2 separate regions of the Homo sapiens genome follow, and region 1 is linked to region 2. Evidence: fine-mapped expression QTL. A gene starts in region 2. The other region holds a variant in brackets. All regions are shown on one strand. Distances are between the middles of the regions. Region 1 overlaps CD28 (CD28 molecule). Region 2 holds the start of CD28 (CD28 molecule).

Region 1 (9,221 bases), 31 kb before region 2:
AACTGGAGTTCATGCTGCACATTTTCATCTTCGTGTGTCATCATCACCATGTAAAACCACAACTATAGGAAAACAAAGCTGTTTGCTGCTCTTCTTCTCAACTGACATTTCCACCCAGCTCATGATTTGTTCTTTGGAGCCAGAGGAGAGTTTCAATTTATCACTGAGATAGCTCTGCCTGATGAAGTGAGAGTAAAATCCAGTCCACTTCCACCCTGAAATCCATTCACCTTTCTTCAACTTTTTGTCCCTTCAAATTCCTAGCATTCAAGGGTCTTTCACAGAGTTTCAACAGGCAAATCAGATAGGAAAATGAGCTTCGGGAAGCACACATTCTGGCCCTGAGAGTTGCACCAAGAATGAGGTCAGCTTTGAAGAGCTGATATATTCTTTGATCACCTCAAGCAATTTATCATCTCAAGCAATTTTCAAGTGTTGGGCCCGGTGTCAACACCCTGAAATGAACAAAAGTCACTCTGAGAAATTGTGTGACCTTCTGCTCTGGACAGTGGCCTAGGTTTCCAAGTGCTAGGATCCTGTGAATCTTCAAAGAGAAAGCACATATTTCTTCTGGGTTGCCAAATCAGAGAAAGCTGAGAGGCCCCACCATTCACATGTGTTCTTGAAGGGGTATGATCCCAGTTCACTGCAGCCTCAGCCTCCTAAGTAGCTGGGACTACAGGCCTGCACCATCACGTCTGGCTAATTTTTTTTTTTAATACAGACAGGGTCTCCCTATGTTGTTCAAGCTGGTCTTGAACTCCTAGACTCAAGTGATCCTCCTGCATTAGCCTCCCAAAGTGCTGACATTACAGGCATGAGTGACCGTGCCCAGCCCCAAACTTTCTTATGAGCACCACTGTCAAAAAGTCAAGAGTTAGGCCTCAGTTTAGGAAACACAGACAGACATTAGAAGCAAAGTTACCAGACAAGGTTCTGGTCTGCTTTCCAGACCATCCCATTTGCTGCTGCATAGTGTGATGGTTAGGTCCCCATTACAATGAATCCAGAAGCTTCTTTAATTTTTTCTCACCTATCCATTATCTCTGATACCGACAAGATGGGAGAGAAGAAAGGGTATTGCTTTAAAAGGGAATCAATCTGTTTTATCATACTGGAGGGAAAAAGTGAATTCGGGGTTGTGGGCAATTACAATATTCACCCAGTTGGGTAGCTAGAATGTTGTGGGAGGTGTTAGGTGAAGCGAAGTTTGCATTTTATTTTGTTTTGAACTTGAGTTTCAAAGTACTAGAACCTTTTTACAGAACTGGGTTACATTATTTTTATTAGCATGGTAAAGGAGTGCTTATTGAGCAGATTCATTTAATGGCTTTTTTTTTTTTACCCATCTCGTTCCTTTCCAATTGATTTGATTTGTCTTATTGAACTATCCATGAGTAACCAGCTGAGTTCAGTCTTTCTTGGAGTAGTAAGAGACATATAAGCTCATCTTTTTCAAGTTTAATTACCTTTATTAAGTTTAATAAGCTTCATTTCACCAAAGAAAAGAATCAGTTTAGAGATGAACTCATTGCACACCAATTTAATTGACTCTGAGTCACCTTCAGAGTAAAATTTCAACGAAGGAAACAGAAGGTGCTACATGAATTATTAGACCAGCTCTTGTGTCTGTTGTTCAAGCGCCTTTCCCTTCCCCTACCCAGAAGATGATAGGGGTGTGTGTGTGTGTGTGTGGGTCTGTGTGTGTGTGTGTGTGTGTGTGTGTGTGTGCTATTAGAGTGTTCAGCTATGATATGAGTATGACAGGTGAAGAAGTTGAAATTTTCTGTCCCCAGCATTTCCATTTGTGAGCACTTTTTGAATCAGAGCCAGAGAAGGCATTTATAGAATTTGTTGGGGGTAAAATCACCCCAGAAAAAAGAGTAGCAGGTCAGTAGTAGGATGGGATTTTAACATTTTAGACAAAGACAACATTTTCAGAAGTCTTAAACTAAAGATATGTTTAAGATATAGCCAATACTCCATTAAGAGGGAATTTGGGGACTTCAATGGAAAATCAACTTACTCCTGACAGTGGCTGAGTTGGCATGACTTTTCTAACAGTACTGGTTTTCCTCACTGCACAAAAATTTCTAAAACGTAAATGAACTTATATTCATCAGATTTTCTTTCACTAGATTTGGCTGTGTATATATTTTACCTCCTGTTTTTTTAATAAAATGAATTTTTGAACTTCTTAAGAGGAAAGTAGAAAATAGAACTGGCTTTCTCCCTCTCAAAGTATGATTATAACATTTAGACTCACCGTTAATTCATAAGGCCATGTAAAACTCATTCACTCAGTCAATAAATATTTATTATATACCAGGCACTGCTCTGGGCACTGGAGATACAGCAAGAAACAAAGCAAAGTTACTTGCCTCATGAAGCTTATAAACTACAAATAAATAAGAAAAATGTCTAATGTAAGAGATGGTAAAATGCTATGGAGAAAAATAAGCAAGGAAAGCAGACAGGGTGTGGGGTAGTTTAACTAGGGGAGAAGATGACACTTGAGCAAGGACCTGAAGGGTGACGAGGCAAGCCAGGTCATCTACAGAAGGACATTCTAGACAGAGTAAACAGGACATGTAAAGGCCCTGAGGTAGGAACATGCCTGTGATGGTTGAGTATTCCTGATACATTCCTATATGTCAGAAAGTATGCATATATCTATAGGAAAGAGAGACTTTCTGAGCCTCAAATGGCCTTGCAGATAACACAGACTCCCTCACCCCAGGTCTTGAGAGAGTGTGTGTCACTCTCTTTGACCTGGATTATTAATAAGTCTATAGCAATCAAGATCCTGGTTCTGGGTCCTTTATTGGCACCATCTCTAATCTCCAGCATGTAGTTGAATTTAACACTTTGGGATCAGTATCCAGGTCTGGTATAGTTCCCAGCTGGCAGTGCAAATGGCTGGGATAAGGGATCAGACATGCATTTAACCATCAATACCCTCATTAAAATAGCCATGAGGACCGGTGGCTCAGTTAGTTAACCCGAGGGACTGATGGGGTCAAGGCTGAAGTTGGATCTCTGTCAAACTTCTCAGCATTCACATGACACAGAACACATAGGTAAGCCTAGCCTGACATCTCAAAGAGGTCAGCCATTGGTCTGATAAGAAATTGTGACTGAAGTCAAGCAAACAAACCAGAAACGTACCCTGCTTGAAGTGAAATTAGTATTTGAAAGTCTAGCTTTTTCAAAAAAGGCTAAACTGGAGATTTATACAAGGATTTACCCCACACCTCTTTTAAATAGCAAGTTCTATCCAAATTCCTTGCCAAAGCGAAGCATATCTATTCTGAAAGCATATCTTTCTTAATACCAAAAGACAATATTAAAGTACAAATTTAAAGCAGACATATAGTAGTTTAGTAATTTTATCACTGAATATGTAGAACATAATGTACATACACTTGGTCTCTTTAAATTGGCATGCTTAACCCAAATAGGTGAGCTCACAATCAAAAATTATAGGAGTACCATTAATTATAAGACTCTTACAATAATAGCAGCAAATGACATTGTTTTCTTCATAACTACCATATCTGAAACTATGAAAGCATTGCTCCTACCACTGTTTTTGAACCATTTCTTGGTTCATACTAATAGTGAAAACGGACTTCCCTGTATAACATTTCTTCTTTGTTTCTGTGCAGAGTGAGTAAGAAACATCTCAAGTGTGATTCATCTTTAGTAGGCCTATTTTTCCAGTCAGAAAACAAAATCATTTATTACCATAGATCAAGTCTTTCCATTTAAAAAAAAGTATTTATTTATTTGCCACTGCCATTTCAAAAAACTCTCCAGCTCTGTCATTTTCAAATACAATCTGATAACTTGGATTGAAGAACTCTGTGTGCCCAAGAAGCTGGCAAGTGGCACACGTGCCAGGGTAAATCCAACAGTTCTTCAGCACCCAAGTACTGCTGAGTTTGATCTTCTTGGGACTGATTAAATCCATGGAATGGAAGCCCACTTAAAAATCAACCAAAGTACAGTATTTTCGATCTGGAATCTCAAGATTCCTACTCCTCCCTTCCTTCTCACATTAAAAAAAAATTAAAAGACCTCTTTCTATACATAAAAGTGGGAGGTGCCTTATATTTCATTACAAGATAAACTATTTCAAGAAACAGGAAAATGATGGAAGTTAAAAGGTCCTCATATTATAGCACCTCATCCCTGCGTAGTGGGTTTAAATTTGTGTTACAATATTCCCCCCTTCTTAGGCTATTGCCCAGTTTAATTTTTATACATAATTTATCTATATGGCAATAATACCAATAGCTAACATTGTATGTCGGGCATGCTACTAAATGTCAGGGATAGGCAGAGTCAAAGACAGACTTGGGCCATGCCCTTATGGAGATTATACTATAGGAAGAGACATTTGTAACCATTATCTCCATTTTATAGTTGAAGAACCATCATCTTAGGTGGGCAGTGACTTGCCTGAGGCTATTCAACTACTAACGAGACTTGAACCAAGTCTACGTGCCTCTAAAACCTAAGCTCCTTCAACACCTGAATTAACTGAAGCATGAACAAATGGTGAGGGCCACTGAAGGGCCATTCTTCAAGGTCCCCAGGCATATTCTAGTTGACTCAAACTGTAGGTAGAAAAATATCCATGGTCATTTCAGGGTCAGGCCTTACCCAGTCCCTTAAGAACTCTGATGCTCTCTTCAAAAGACACATTCCAAAATACTTTCCCATGTGAATGGACCTCCAAGGTACAGGAGCAGCTGAGCCCAGAGTTTTGGAGCTCTGAGCCCTAAACCACATAAAGTCCCTGTAAAGGAGCTCTCACCAGGGCACCTTCTGCCTGACCACTTCTGGAAGATTGTCACCTAATGCTGGCTATCTCCTCAGCACATGGCAAGAATTTCATTACTCCATTCTATTCGTCCTCCTTCCAAAGAACCTTCTTGGGACTCATCCTCATACTCTAATGAATGCTAACATCCCTTTTTCACAGTATTCTCACTTCTCCTATGGACGCTCTTTCCACAACCCACTTTGGATCTCCACACCGACATTAAAGAGACCAACTGTGCAACCCTGAAACATATGAAACAGGAAAGCTCCTACCTGGTCTGATTGGAATGAACTGTTAGACAAATAATCCTTCACAGTACTCAAATAATTTTGTGGTTTGTTGTTGTTGTTGTTGTTGTTGTTGTTGTT[T/G]GAGATGGAGTCTCACTCTGTCGCCCAGGCTGGAGAGCTGTGGCACTATCTCGGCTCACTGCAACCTCCGCCTGCCAGGTTCAAGCGATTCTCATGCCTCAGCCTCTTGGGCAGCTGGGATTACAGGTGCCTGCCACCAGGCCAAGCTAAATTTTGTATTTTTAGTACAGACGGAGTTTCACCATCTTGACCAGGCTGGTCCTGATCTCAAGTGATCTGCCCACCTCGGCCTCCCAAAGTGCTGGGATTACAAGCATGAGCCACTGCGCCAGGTCCCATAGTACTCAAATAATTTTGACATAAAGTGACCTTATTTCCTGACATATTCTTTCTTCATGTAGGAGAACTATTTTATTCTTTCGAAAGTATATTGTGAACATTAACACTGAAGTCTCATGACAGGGAGTGAGGAAAGCAACTTGGTTTACCTGATATTGCTTTGAGGGAATCCCTCATTTGACCAAATCCCTCATTTGGTCAAAATGACTAAATATGATCAGAATTCATAAAAGACAATGTCTATGTATTTCTAAACTAAAGGAAAACAGCATTAAATAGGAACTACGTGGCTCATTTCATGAGTGGGAGACAGTGTTTTAATGGTTTTTAAATATGTCTTCCTATCCCTCCCCCTACTCTAACTTACCCCGTTTAACCCACTAACCAAAAGATTAAACACCCATTTAACCAAAAGGAATGATTTCCTAGCCTTTCTTCTGCAACTAAAATGTCTGTGGATACCACACTTTGCTTGACTGAGATGTGCAGGTGAGTGAGAAAGGGAAGAGGCTCCCAGAATCCACTCCCTTTTTGTTTTCTACCCTAACTTCTCAGTCAAGTCACTAAGTACATGGTAAGTTGGAATGTGGGCCATGGCACTGTAAGACTTGGCCTGTCACAGGAAATCTCTTTTACTTCATTTCAGAGTCTCAAAATGATCTTGATATTTGGTCTAGTCACTCGAGAAAAATTGGCATTGGTGGCCCAACAGGGGCCTGAGGTGGCCGGCTGGAGATGGCGGTCATTTCCTATCCAGAGCAGTGATATTGAGCAGATGGGGGCTGCCAGCCGGCTGGCTTCTGGATAGGCGTCCGTGTCAGGAGCGATAGGCTGCGAAGTCGCGTGGTGGGGCATAGGGCTGGTAATGCTTGCGGGTGGGCCCGGGGCGGCGGGGAGTCATGTTCATGTAGTCACTGTGCAGGAGCCTGCTCCTCTTACTCCTCACCTGCAGGAAAGAGAAGTGTCAGTATGGAGGGACAATGTCATGGAAGGAGTTCTAAGACTGTGGGCACAACTATTCATAATATTAACTGTCAAATGACAGAGACACTAAAACACTAACCTTTTTTGAGCACCTTGGACTTGGGTAATGACTAATCACACCCAACTACTGACTCTTCACATTGAACTTGAAAAATCTCAAAGAAAGTATTTTAGAGAAATGCATCCCTGTTACTCTCAATGCTGTCATCTGACCTGAATTAAAAATGCACACTAATTAACATATCCACTGTTGATATGTAAATACACTTGAAGGCCCTTCCTCCTTTGACTAGGTTAAGCCTACCCACATTGTGATCTTCTTACATTAGCATTTGCTTAACAAGCTGTTTTTCCATAATTAACCGAAGAGGACTTTCAACTCCTCCAGAGTCTGTAATAATCACAAATTTGTAAAGGTGGAGTCCAAACTAATGGCAATTTACAGTTCTAGACAACTAGTACATTCCTATGTCTTTATGGGTATGTATTTCTACACTCATCTCTCTTTCATAGGCTTGGCTCCATCAGGATGAATTTCCACCAGAAGTGAGGGAAGTAAGGGCAATAGTTTCACCCACCATGAATCTTAGCAAAATTTTTGACTAAGGGTTAGGAACATCATTTCTGAATCAATGTGATAGTAAAATTCTACATTTCTTAACAAATGACCCAGAAAACATCTAAAAACAGAAAGCCATCAGATTTCTGGATTCAGAATTCTCTATTATGAAAAAAGTGCCTAGTTCCTGGCACACAGGCTGATACCTAAGTAGATAATGCTGTACATGAATGACATGATACCTGAATGAATAAATAAGTGAATGATTTCAGCCCTGGTTTTGTTTCCATACACTCCTGCCTGAGCACTTCACACCTTCCTTGTCAAAGGGGCATGAGTAAGTGCTAAAGAAAGGTTTGAAAAACGCTGACTTCCATGTTACTAAACACAGCTAACATGTTTTAAGTCCTCATCTTCTTCAACTCTCAGCAGTATTCTATACTATTGATAACTCTCTTCTTTTTGTGATACTATTTCTCTTTGCCATCTATGACATCCCAGTTTTTATCCTACCTGTCTTGTCACTCCTTCCCTGCCTCCTTTGCAAGCTCATCCTTCTCTAACCAGCCGTTAGAATTTCTCACTGCTTGGTCCTAGGCCTTCTTCTCTATCCTCTTTCCCTAGGCAATCTTATCCACATTCACAGCTTCAATTACCACCTACTCACCCAAATTTATATCTCTGGACTAAACCTCAAAGCCACTCTAAACTCAACATGTCTAAAATAAAACTCAAGATTTCCCCCAAATGCTGTTTTTTTTTTACCAGTGTTTCTCATCTGAGTGAATGACACTACCATATATACAGCTGCCCAAGACAGACCTCCTAACCTCATCCTTGACACCTCAAGCTCCCTTAATCCCTGTCCCAGGAGACATTTAGTGAAGTCTAAAAACATTTTGGATCATCACAACGGGGAGGGATGCTACTGGCATCTACTGGGTAGAGGTCAGAGATGCTGCTAAACATCCTACAATGCAATGAAGAATTGTTTTGGTTCTACATCCTTTCTGTAAATGAAAGACTAGAGCTGTCTTGAGCACAAGATCACAGCAGGGCAGGGGTGAGGCCGAGGAAATGTCTGTCCCCAGATGAGTGTAGAAAACAGCTGATAACCTGGGAAGCATTTTTAGTACTTACTCCAACCCTGAGGACTCCCTTTGCCAAACCTCCAAGTGTCAGCCTCTGCCTCCGGACACCCAAACCAAATCATAGCTGGTAGAGAGGCCACAGCAATAAAGGTGTCTTGATTCTCAGGTTCTTTACATTGCACATAAAATAATGAAAGGTCTGTTGCAGTCAGCTCCCATGCTTATCCTCAAGTGATTGTCAGATGGCAGACTTACTTATTATCACCCTAACTCTAAACACAGCAGTGGGATGAAAATGACAGATGCATGGCTGGGAACAAACACCACGCAGAACCTACAGCACCCATGTGCATTGAGTATGTGTGCATATGTGTGCAGGAAGTACCTACCCTATGTGTCTGTGTCATCTCCACCCCTTCAACAGTGAATGTCAGCTAATGATATGTAATTTCTGGACCATTCCTCCTTTGCCCTTCTCCCCATGCCAGCCTTACCCACTTGTTTCCTGGGAACAGCAGCAATACACAGGGCATATGCAAGGTAATCTACTTAAGTACGTGGTCTTCAAGAATCTACTGGATTATTATAAAAAGCAGACACTACCTGTACACACACTATCTACATTCCTCACATTATGATCTGCAGTGGGGAACATAATGTTTTTTAAAAAGATTTCTTTAGGAAAACGGGCAGCTTTACCAGCACAGCTGCATGAATGGAGAATTGAAAGACAGTGACAGGTGCTGGCCTGTGACAGCTTGACCAAAGGGAGCTCTTTATTTACTCAAATGTCAACATCAGGTCAAGAACTGAGATAGAATCTGCAGCTGCTCCCAGAAACCCGCTCAGCCTAGAAACCCACTCAACCCAGAACTGCCTACAGTAGCATATCAGGCCCTCAGGAAGTTCCGGAAAACAGCAACTTACATCAAGGCACGCTGCAGACCAGCCAAAAATAGGATCTCAGAAAATTACCCAGGAAACAGCTAAACTCCAGGGATCCATAATGGCCTAGATGCCCAACTCAGCAAGGTACTTGTTGCTTAAATACCAACAGCAGGAAAAGATGAGCCCAGAGTAAAAATACTATGTTATTCTACGAAATATAG
Region 2 (9,266 bases):
AAGTATTTTGTGCATACCATCCTTCTATCATCAATCCCAGAGCATTTCCCTCTTAAGGCTCTGTAGTTCTGGGCTGGACTCCTATCCCAAAGTCCAGCAAAATACTCTCTGTGGATCTCAGTTGCACAATTATCCGAGTCTAGTAGAAAACATGCAAAGGGCTTATCTAAGTTAAGGTTTCCTCACTCTTCCTAAATCACACTTCTTTAACTTAGCCATAAATATCTCTCTACACTGTCATCCAACTCATAAGGAATCAGGTTAGACTTAACCTTTATAGAATAAATATTTTAAGCTATGCTGTAAACAAATAAGTTACATTATTAAATTAATGGAAAAAAGAACTATTCTTCATATACATACATACACACACATTATTAAATTAATGGAAAAAAGAACTATTCTTCATATACATACATACACACACATGCACGCACACAGATACACATCTCAACACAGGCATAACAGTGGTTTCTCAGACCTAGGAAGGACAGTTACACTTTGACCAGAGAATTTCCCTATCTATAATTTCTTAATGGAAGGTGTGTACAGAGAAAGGCAAAGCACACAAGAAGCTTTGCACTATTTGATTAGAATGCAGCATAATTTTTTTTTTTTTTTGAGACTGTTTCCCAGGCTGGAGTGCAGGGGTGCAATCTAAGTTCACAGCAACCTCCGCGTCCCGGGTTTAAGCAATTCTCCTGCCTAAGCCTCACAAGTAGCTGGGATTACAGGCGCATGCCACCACACCCTGCTAATTTTTTTGTATTTTTAGTAGAGATGGGATTTCACCATGTTAGCCCGACGGGTCTCCAACTCCTGACCTCAAGTGATCCACCCGCCTCAGCGTCCCACGATTACAGGCGTGAGCCACCACACCAGGCCAAATCATACATTTTTTATGTGGTCATTCTTTTCTTGCTCGTAAGTTTTCTTACTGGAAAAGACTGTAAAAGTGTCCCCTTCACTCCCATCTCTTTCCTTCTTCATTAGATAGCCACTCAGTATCAAATGCTAAAAGTTACTAGAAAAGTGAATTGGCATTTGAAAAGTAAATATATGTCAAAGTAGAAAACAAAGGCCCTATGTGTGTGAACTCTCCAACCACTTATCTAGCTAGTCCCCTTTTAATAAATGTTCTAAAGAAAACATACAAAGTTTTGAGTCTTACCAAAAACTCTTCAAAAGAGAGTGAATAAGTTGATGACAGATAGGTGTCCACAAAGCACATCAGAAAAGTATTTAGTGTACAATTACCAATTTTAAATAGTTTTCAGTCAGGGTAGGCTTCCCTTGACTGTCTAACAAATTAAGTAATTTTAAATATTCTTTAAGTTTGAGAGATCTCTTAAAAATAAGGTTTGACCTTTTTAAAATAAATGTTAAAGATTCTTGTAGAATATATTTGGTAGCTGTAAACGCTTGGTACCAGATCTCATTGCCAACTCATGTCTTTCATTATATCAACACGTTTTATAAATATACACAATTTGTGCTCACTGGTACGTCAGACCATAAAATAAACGGGTATATATGCAACTACTGTACCTCTGCAGATTGGGAAATTATACTCTTTGGGCTATGTACACTTAATGTTTAAGAATAACAACAAATAATGCAGTCTCTGTACTGCCAAAATAAGAAAGAAAATTGAGGATACTGGCTTTTCAATGTATCTTTCAGGGAAAAATAACTGTCCTTATTTAAGCATGACTGTTGACCCCTATCAGTCCAGTTTTTGAACCAAGCGGGGGCCTTTTTCTAACTCTGAGAACACGTTGAATGAGCATCTTACTCCAGCCCACCCAAGTAACAAATTCTTTCTGTTAGGAATTGTGCTTGTGATTTTCCGAAGTTAATTTAACCCTGGATTTACCTGAGTCCATGAAATTACAAATCACACCATGTTAGATGGAATAGCATAATAATCAACAACACCGGCACTGGAGTCAGACTAAGGTGGTTCAGACCCTGCCTCCTATAGCTGCCACCTGTACATCCTTGGGCAAATCCCTTAATGTGCCTACCCCTCAGTCTCTTCATCTGAAATGAAGTTAACTGTAATACCTACCTTCTAGTTACGAGAACTGTGTGCTGCTCAAAGTGCTAGATGTATTATCCTCCTCATCATCGTCATTGGGAACTTAAAGAATTTTAATCTAAGAAAATACATTTTGGCCGATTGTAAAAGAAAACTAATTTATTAATATTGGTGTTGTAGCAGCTTCTGTGGTGACTCCAGAATTCATGTTGGAACTCATTCAATTCAGGTAGATAGAGTAATTACAGTTCACATTTATCTTGAAGCCTGACTGAGCTAAGCCCTTCGCATGGATTATTTCATTTTACCTCACAATGACCTTGAGGTGAGGTTTATTATTATTCCCACTTTACAGTTAAGGAAACTGAGGTTTGGAGAGTTTAAATAATAGCTAAGCCTAAGCTTACCTAGTGAGAATTGGACCTGTGTTAGGAACATAGGCAACCTAAATTCAGAGCTTCCAGAGCCAATCTACTTACAGCAGCTTTCTTAAATTAAAAAAAAAAAGAAAGAAAGAAAGAAACGATACATAAATTAAAAATTATTGGCCGGGCATGGTAGCTCATGCCTGTAACCCTAGCACTTTGGGAGGCAGAGGCAGGTGGATTGCTTGAGCTCAGAAGTTTGAGACCAGCCTGGGCAACATAGTGAAACCCCATCTCAATTTAAAATAATAATAATAATAATAAATTCTTGGGACACTATCAACTAATAGCTAGAGAAACTAATAGCTTAGAAAATTTATTTCCAAGGGACTTTTGTTAAGATACTATATTGTAGTCTGAGAATCAATGATTTTCAAAATAACACATTGCCCTATTACAGCAAAACTACACTTCAAATGTTCAAATTTCACACATTGTTAGAAATTTAAAATAAACTAAGCCAATTGGAAGACCTCAAAAAATATTTACAGAAAGAAAGACATTAACATTGTTTACCTGTTACTTGAATTGAAGGGAATAAGTTGAGAGCCAAGAGCAGCCTGAGCATCTTTGTCCTGACGATGGGCTAGGGTTCCAGCCCCTCCTCCCCGAGGAACCCGAAGTGTGAGGGGAACTGAAAGACGCACCTGCCAAGGCCTGAGAGTCTCCGTCATCCACGGCCACCACCACCGCCACCATCCCCTTAGGGCACATGATCAAGGCACTCAAACCACAAGGCATCCTGACTGCAGCATTTCACACAGGATATAACGTTGTTTTGATGACTTTAGACTTTTACTTCTATTTTTAAAGACTTTTTTTTTGTCACTGAAAAATAGTCGGTCACTACATGATGGGCTTATGGGAATTATTCTTTATTGATGGATATCAAGAGTTGTGTAAAAGGGGTGCTTGAAATCCAGCAGAGATTAAAGGGGAGACAAAGTGTTCTTAAGAAGGAACAGGCCGGGTGCAGTGGCTCACGCCTGTAATGCCAGCAATTTGGGAGGCCAAAGTGGGTGGATCATTTGAGGCCAGGAGGTCAAGACGAGCCTGGCCAACATGGTGAAACCCCGTCTCCATTGAAAATACAAAAAATTAGCCAGGCATCATGGTGGGTACCTGTAATCCCAGCTACTAGGGAGGCTAAGGCAGGAGAATCGCTTGAACCCAGGAGGTGGAGGCTGCTATGAGCCGAGATCATGCCACTGCACTCCAGCCAGGGCAACAGAATGAGAAAAGAAAGACAGAAAGAAAGAGAGAAAGAAAAGAAAAGAAAAGAAAAGAAAAGAAGGAAAGAAGGAAGGAAGGGGAGAGAGAAAAAAGAAAGGAAGAAAGAAAGAGAGAGAAAGAGAAAGAAAGAAAGAAAGAAAAGAAAGAAAGAAAGAGAAAGAAAGAAAGAAAGAAAGAAAGAAAGAAAGAAAGAAAGAAAGAAAGAAAGAAAGATGGAAAGAAAGAAAGAGGGAGGGAGGGAAGGAAGGAAGGGGGAGAGAGAGAAAGAAAGAATAAAGTCTCTAGCAGAGGAGAGATTTTCATAGGATGGGGACAGGTTGTGTCAAAAAGATAATGGTAAGAATTCTACTGAGGAATTGGGAAACATCTGCATAAACGTTTAAAGGAGTTACAAATATTAGAAATGTAACATTTGTGTAGGACATAAGGTAGCCCTCTGGAGCATTTAGCACACAGTGCTTGATTTATGTCAAGCCTCCTCCAACTCACTTCTAGGAACTTTGCAAAACCCATTCTACGTGCAAGCAGCCAGCCAGCTGAGTATCTGGGGGAGGTTCCCTAAGCAAAGGGAAAGTCAAAACAACATTCTATGTTCTTAGTGGGACAGTAAGGCAACCAAAAGCCCCTTGGTGTCTCATGCTCTCTATGTCCCTCAAGGTTAAGTAATAGGGCACAAAAGGAGGCTCCGTGGCAGGATTTCTGAGATTCATAACCACCACCCGACTGCACCCTTCTTCAACTCCCAGGCCCTTTGCAGAGAGGGTTATTCCACCAGCACGGCCAACTGCTCTCTTCTTCCGGCACCTACGTCAGTATCTTGTACTCAATGACTTCTTCAAAACTTTTCCAGTAATTTTTTTCTTCTTTTTGATAATCTAAGCTTTGTGCAATTACTCTAGTTGGGGGTTTTGTGTATGTGGGTTGTTTTAAAAGATAACTTGTATTGCTTTTTATTCTGACTATAAAAGTAAGGCATATTTCATTGAGAATGTTTAGAAAAATTATAAGCATTAAAACAAGATTCATCCACATTCTTACCACCCTAATATAAACACTGCTAATATTCTGGTCCACTGCCTTCCACCTGTTGGTCTGTTAAGATTTTTACATGTTTAATATCATGTTTTACTTATAGTTTTCATCAGATATGTACTATTATTTGTTATATCTTGAACATTTTCCCATGTCATTTAAGTATCTTTATAAACATTATTTGTAATTGATGCATAATATTCCATTCTCTAATTATATCATAAATTGTTTAACAAACCCCTAGTGTTGTTACCTTTTTTTCTTCGCTATTTTAAAATGCTACAGTCAAACTCTTTGATGACCTAGCTGTAAGAGGAGGCAGGCTTCATGTCCCTCCCTCCTGATCTGATAAATGACAGATCAAAAGTATTTCCTGTCCTGGTAGACCTTCTTTGTTCACACTTCAATTTTCCCACAAACACAGTCTTTGTGAACCCCTCTTACTAACACATCTTTTGGTCCTTTGGAGAAATTTGTCCTTGGAAATGATTCACTCACACTTCTGAACTATAGGTAAGTGACAAAGCTATGCCCTGAGTCCTGGAGAAGATTCACTTCTAGAATTTGACACAGTCTTCCTGGCTCTGATCCTCTATCCAGTTAGGGGAACCCATGCCTTCCCCAGGGCCTGAAGTCTATCTGGGGGAAAATTTACAGATGGCAAGGTGACCTTTCCTAAAAGGTCATCCATATTCTAGAGCCACCAGCCTACCCAGATCTTAAAACAAGAGGCTCTGAGACTCATTATACATACTGAGAATATACACAGAAGAAACAAAGATACCCAGTAGTTTTCCATGATCAACAACAAAAGGCTAAGGAGTGAGTTAATAACTGTCTTCAAGCATATTAAAGATGACTACATAGCATCTAGTTAATACTATGTAAATAGTAGTAATCGGGTCAAACTTAGCTGAAAAAGAAACAGTTCACTCATCTGGCCTAATTCCCTTATCTTGCAGAGAAGGAAGCTGCAGCCCAGAGAGGTCAGCTCATTTATACGAATTCACAAAACAATAATTAAATATTATTGGCCTTATTATTTGATGAGCCATATTTAATTTTCTTTCCATAGAATAAAAAGAAACACAAACTTTGACATTTGCCTTCCTATGTTTTAACATGTATGACACTAAAGAAGCAAACCATTTCATTAGAATCCTTTCACATTTGCTTTTGAAATCCAATAGCATTCACATATACCAAGAGGTAGAAATGACAGAAATAAAATAAGGACCTTAAATCCGGCAATACACAGGATACTGAGACCCTACAACATTTTCAGTAAAAATAATAGCATTTCCATACTAAGAACTTTACATTCCAGATCTCATTTAATACACAACCTGTGAGGAAGATTATTATTATCTCCATTTTACAGATGAGAAAACTGGTCTGAAGTGGGGTTAAGAATTGTCAGAACAAAAGAATGTCATTTTTCACAGAATTTGAAAAAGCAATCCTAAAAATCGTGTGGAATCCAAAAAGAGCTGAATAGTCAAAGCAATCCTAAGCAAAAAGAACAAAGCTTTGAAGTATCACATTACCTAACTTCAAATTACATGGTAAAACTATAGTAACCAAAACAGCATGGTACTAGTATAAAAATAGATACATAGAACAATGGAACAGAATAGAGAACCCAGAGATAAAGCCACATATCTACAACCAACTGATCTTCAACAAAGTTAACAAAAATATATGCTGGGGAGAGGACTCCCTATTCAATAAATGGTGCTGGGAAAATTGGCTAGCTATATGCAGAAGAATGAAACGGGGCCCATACCTCTCACCATATACAAAAATTAACATAATATGCATTAAAGCCCTAAATGTAAGACCTGAAACTATAAAAATCCCAGAAGAAAACCAAGAAAAAACTCTTTTTTACATCTGCCGAGGCAAAGAATTTATGAACAAGTCCTCAGAAGCAAAGGCAACAAAATAGACACATGGGACTTAAATAAACTAAAAAGCTTCTGCACAGCAAAAGAAACAATCAACAGAGTAAGTAGATAACTATAGAATGGGAAAAATATTTGCAAACTAAACATCTGACAAAAGGCTAATAACCAGAATCTACATGGAACTGAAACAACTCAACAAGAAAAAAACAATCCCATTAAAAAGTAGGCAGAGGACATGAACAGACATTTTTCTTTCTTTTTGTTTTTTTAAATTTACTTCAAGTTCTGGGATACATGTGCAGAACGTGCAGGTTTGTTACAAAGGTATACGTGTGCCATGGTGGTTTGCTGCACCTATTAACCCATCATCTAGGTTTTAAGCCCCATATGTATTAGGTATTTGTCCTAATGCTCTCCCTCCCCTTGATCCCCACCCCCTGACAGGTCACAGTGTGTGATGTTACCCTCCCTGTGTCCATGTGTTCTCATTGTTCAACTCCCACTTATGAGTGAGAACATGTGGTGTTTGGTTTTCTGCTCCTGTGTTAGTTTGCTGAGAATGATGGCTTCCAGCTTCATCCATGTCCCTGCAAAGGACATGAACTCATACTTTTTTATGGCTGCATAGTGTTCCATAGTATATACGTGCCATATTTTCTTTATCTAGTCTATCATTGATGGGCATTTGGGTTGGTTCTAAGTTTTTGCTGTTGTAAATAGTGCTGCAATAAGCATACGTGTGCATGTCTTTACAGTAGAATGATTTATAATCCTTTGGGTATATACCCAGTAATGGGATTGCTGGGTCAAATGGTATTTCTGGTTCTAGATCCTTGAGGAATCGACACACTGTCTTCCACAATGGTTGAACTAATTTACACTCCCACCAACAGCGTAAAAGAGTTCCTATTTCTCCACAGCCTCGCCAGCATCCGTTGTTTCCTGACTTTTTAATAATTGCCATTCTAACCAGCGTGAGACGGTATCTCATTGTGGTTTTGATTTGCATTTCTCTAATGATCAGTGATGATGAGCTTTTTTTCATGTTTGTTGGCTGCAGAAATGTCTTCTTTTGAGAAGTGTCTGTTCGTATCCTTTGCCCACTTTTTATGGGGTTGTTTTTTTCTTGTAAATTTGTTTAAGTTCCTTACAGATTCTGGATATTAGACGTTTGTCAGATGGATAGATTGCAAAAATTTCTCCCATTCTGTAGTTTGCTTATTCACTCATGGTAGTTTCTTTTGCTGTGCAGAAGCTCTTTAGTTTTAATTAGATCTCATTTGTCAATTTTGGCTTTTGTTGTGATTGCTTTTGGTGTTTTAGTCATGAAGTCTTTGCCCATGCCTATGTCCTGAATGGTATTGCCTTGGTTTGCTTCTAGGGTTTTTATGGTTTTAGGTTTTACATTTAAATCTTTAATCCATCTTAAGTTAATTTTTGTATAAGCTATAAGGAAGGGGACCAGTTTAAGTTTTCTGCATATGGCTAGCCAGTTTTCCCAGCACCATTTATTAAATAGGGAATCCTTTCCCCATTGCTTGTTTTTGTCAGGTTTGTCAAAGATCAGATGGTTGTAGACGTGTGGTGTTATTTCTGAGGTCTCTGTTTCGTTCCATTGGTCTATATATCTGTTTTGGTACCAGTACCATGCTGTTTTGGTTACTGTAGCCTTATAGTACAGTTTGAAGTCAGGTAGCAGGATGCCTCCAGCTTTGTTGTTTTTGCTTAGGATTCTCTTGGCTATATAGGCTCTTTTTTGGTTCCATATGAAATTTAAAGTAGTTTTTTCTAATTCTGCAAAGAAAGTCAATGGTAGCTTGATGGTAATAGTATTGAATCTATAAGTTACTTTGGGCCATATGGCCAATCTCATGGTACTGATTCTTCCTATTCATGAGCATGGAATGTTTTTCCATTTGTTTGTGTCCTCTCTTATTTCCTTGAGCAGTGGTTTGTAGTTCTCCTTGAAGAGGTCCTTCACATCCCTTGTAAGCTGTATTCCTAAGTATCTTATTTTCTTTGTAGCAATTGTGAATGGGAGTTCACTCATGATTTGGCTCTCTACTTGTCTATTATTGGTGTATAGGAATGCTTGTGATTTTTGCCTATTGATTTTGTATCCTGAGACTTTGCTGAAGTTGCTTATCAGAAGGAGTTTTTGGGCTGAGACGATGGATATGAACTCATTCTTTTTATGGCTGCATAGTATTCCATAGTATATATGTGCCATATTTTCTTTTTTTTAATTTAATTTAATTTTATTTTTTTATTTTTTGAGACAGAGTTTCGCTCTTGTTGCCCAGGCTAGAGTACAATGGCACGATCTTGGCTCACTGCAACTTCTGCCTCCCAGGTTCAAGCAATTCTCCTGCCTCAGCCTCCCAGGTAGCTGGGATTACAGGCATGCACCACCAGGCCCAGCTAATTTTTGTATTTTTAGTAGAGATGGGGTTTCTCCATGTTGGTCTGGCTGGTCTCGAACTCCCAACATCAGGTGATCCACCTGCCTTGGCCTCCCAAAGTGCTGGGATTACAGGCGTAAGCCACTACACCCAGCCCATATATGTGCCATATTTTGTTTATCCAGTCTATCATTGATGGGCATTTGGGTTGGTTCCAAGTCTTTGC

Evidence for each region.
Region 1: its variant is fine-mapped to the expression of CD28 in whole blood (TOPMed, PIP 0.94).

Annotation. Positions count from the first base shown.
Region 1 is chr2:203,731,987-203,741,207 of GRCh38, reverse strand. It overlaps CD28 (CD28 molecule), which reads right to left. Exons shown (of 4, transcript NM_006139.4): 4 at 2,296-6,424. The coding sequence ends at 6,296. Among named protein-coding and RNA genes, the nearest start is that of CD28, 30 kb to the right of the region's middle. The variant T/G (reference allele first, on the strand shown) is at 5,200.
Region 2 is chr2:203,700,465-203,709,730 of GRCh38, reverse strand. CD28 (CD28 molecule) reads right to left here and starts at 3,092. Exons shown (of 4, transcript NM_006139.4): 1 at 2,983-3,092. The coding sequence starts at 3,034. RefSeq lists an enhancer at 3,063-3,212.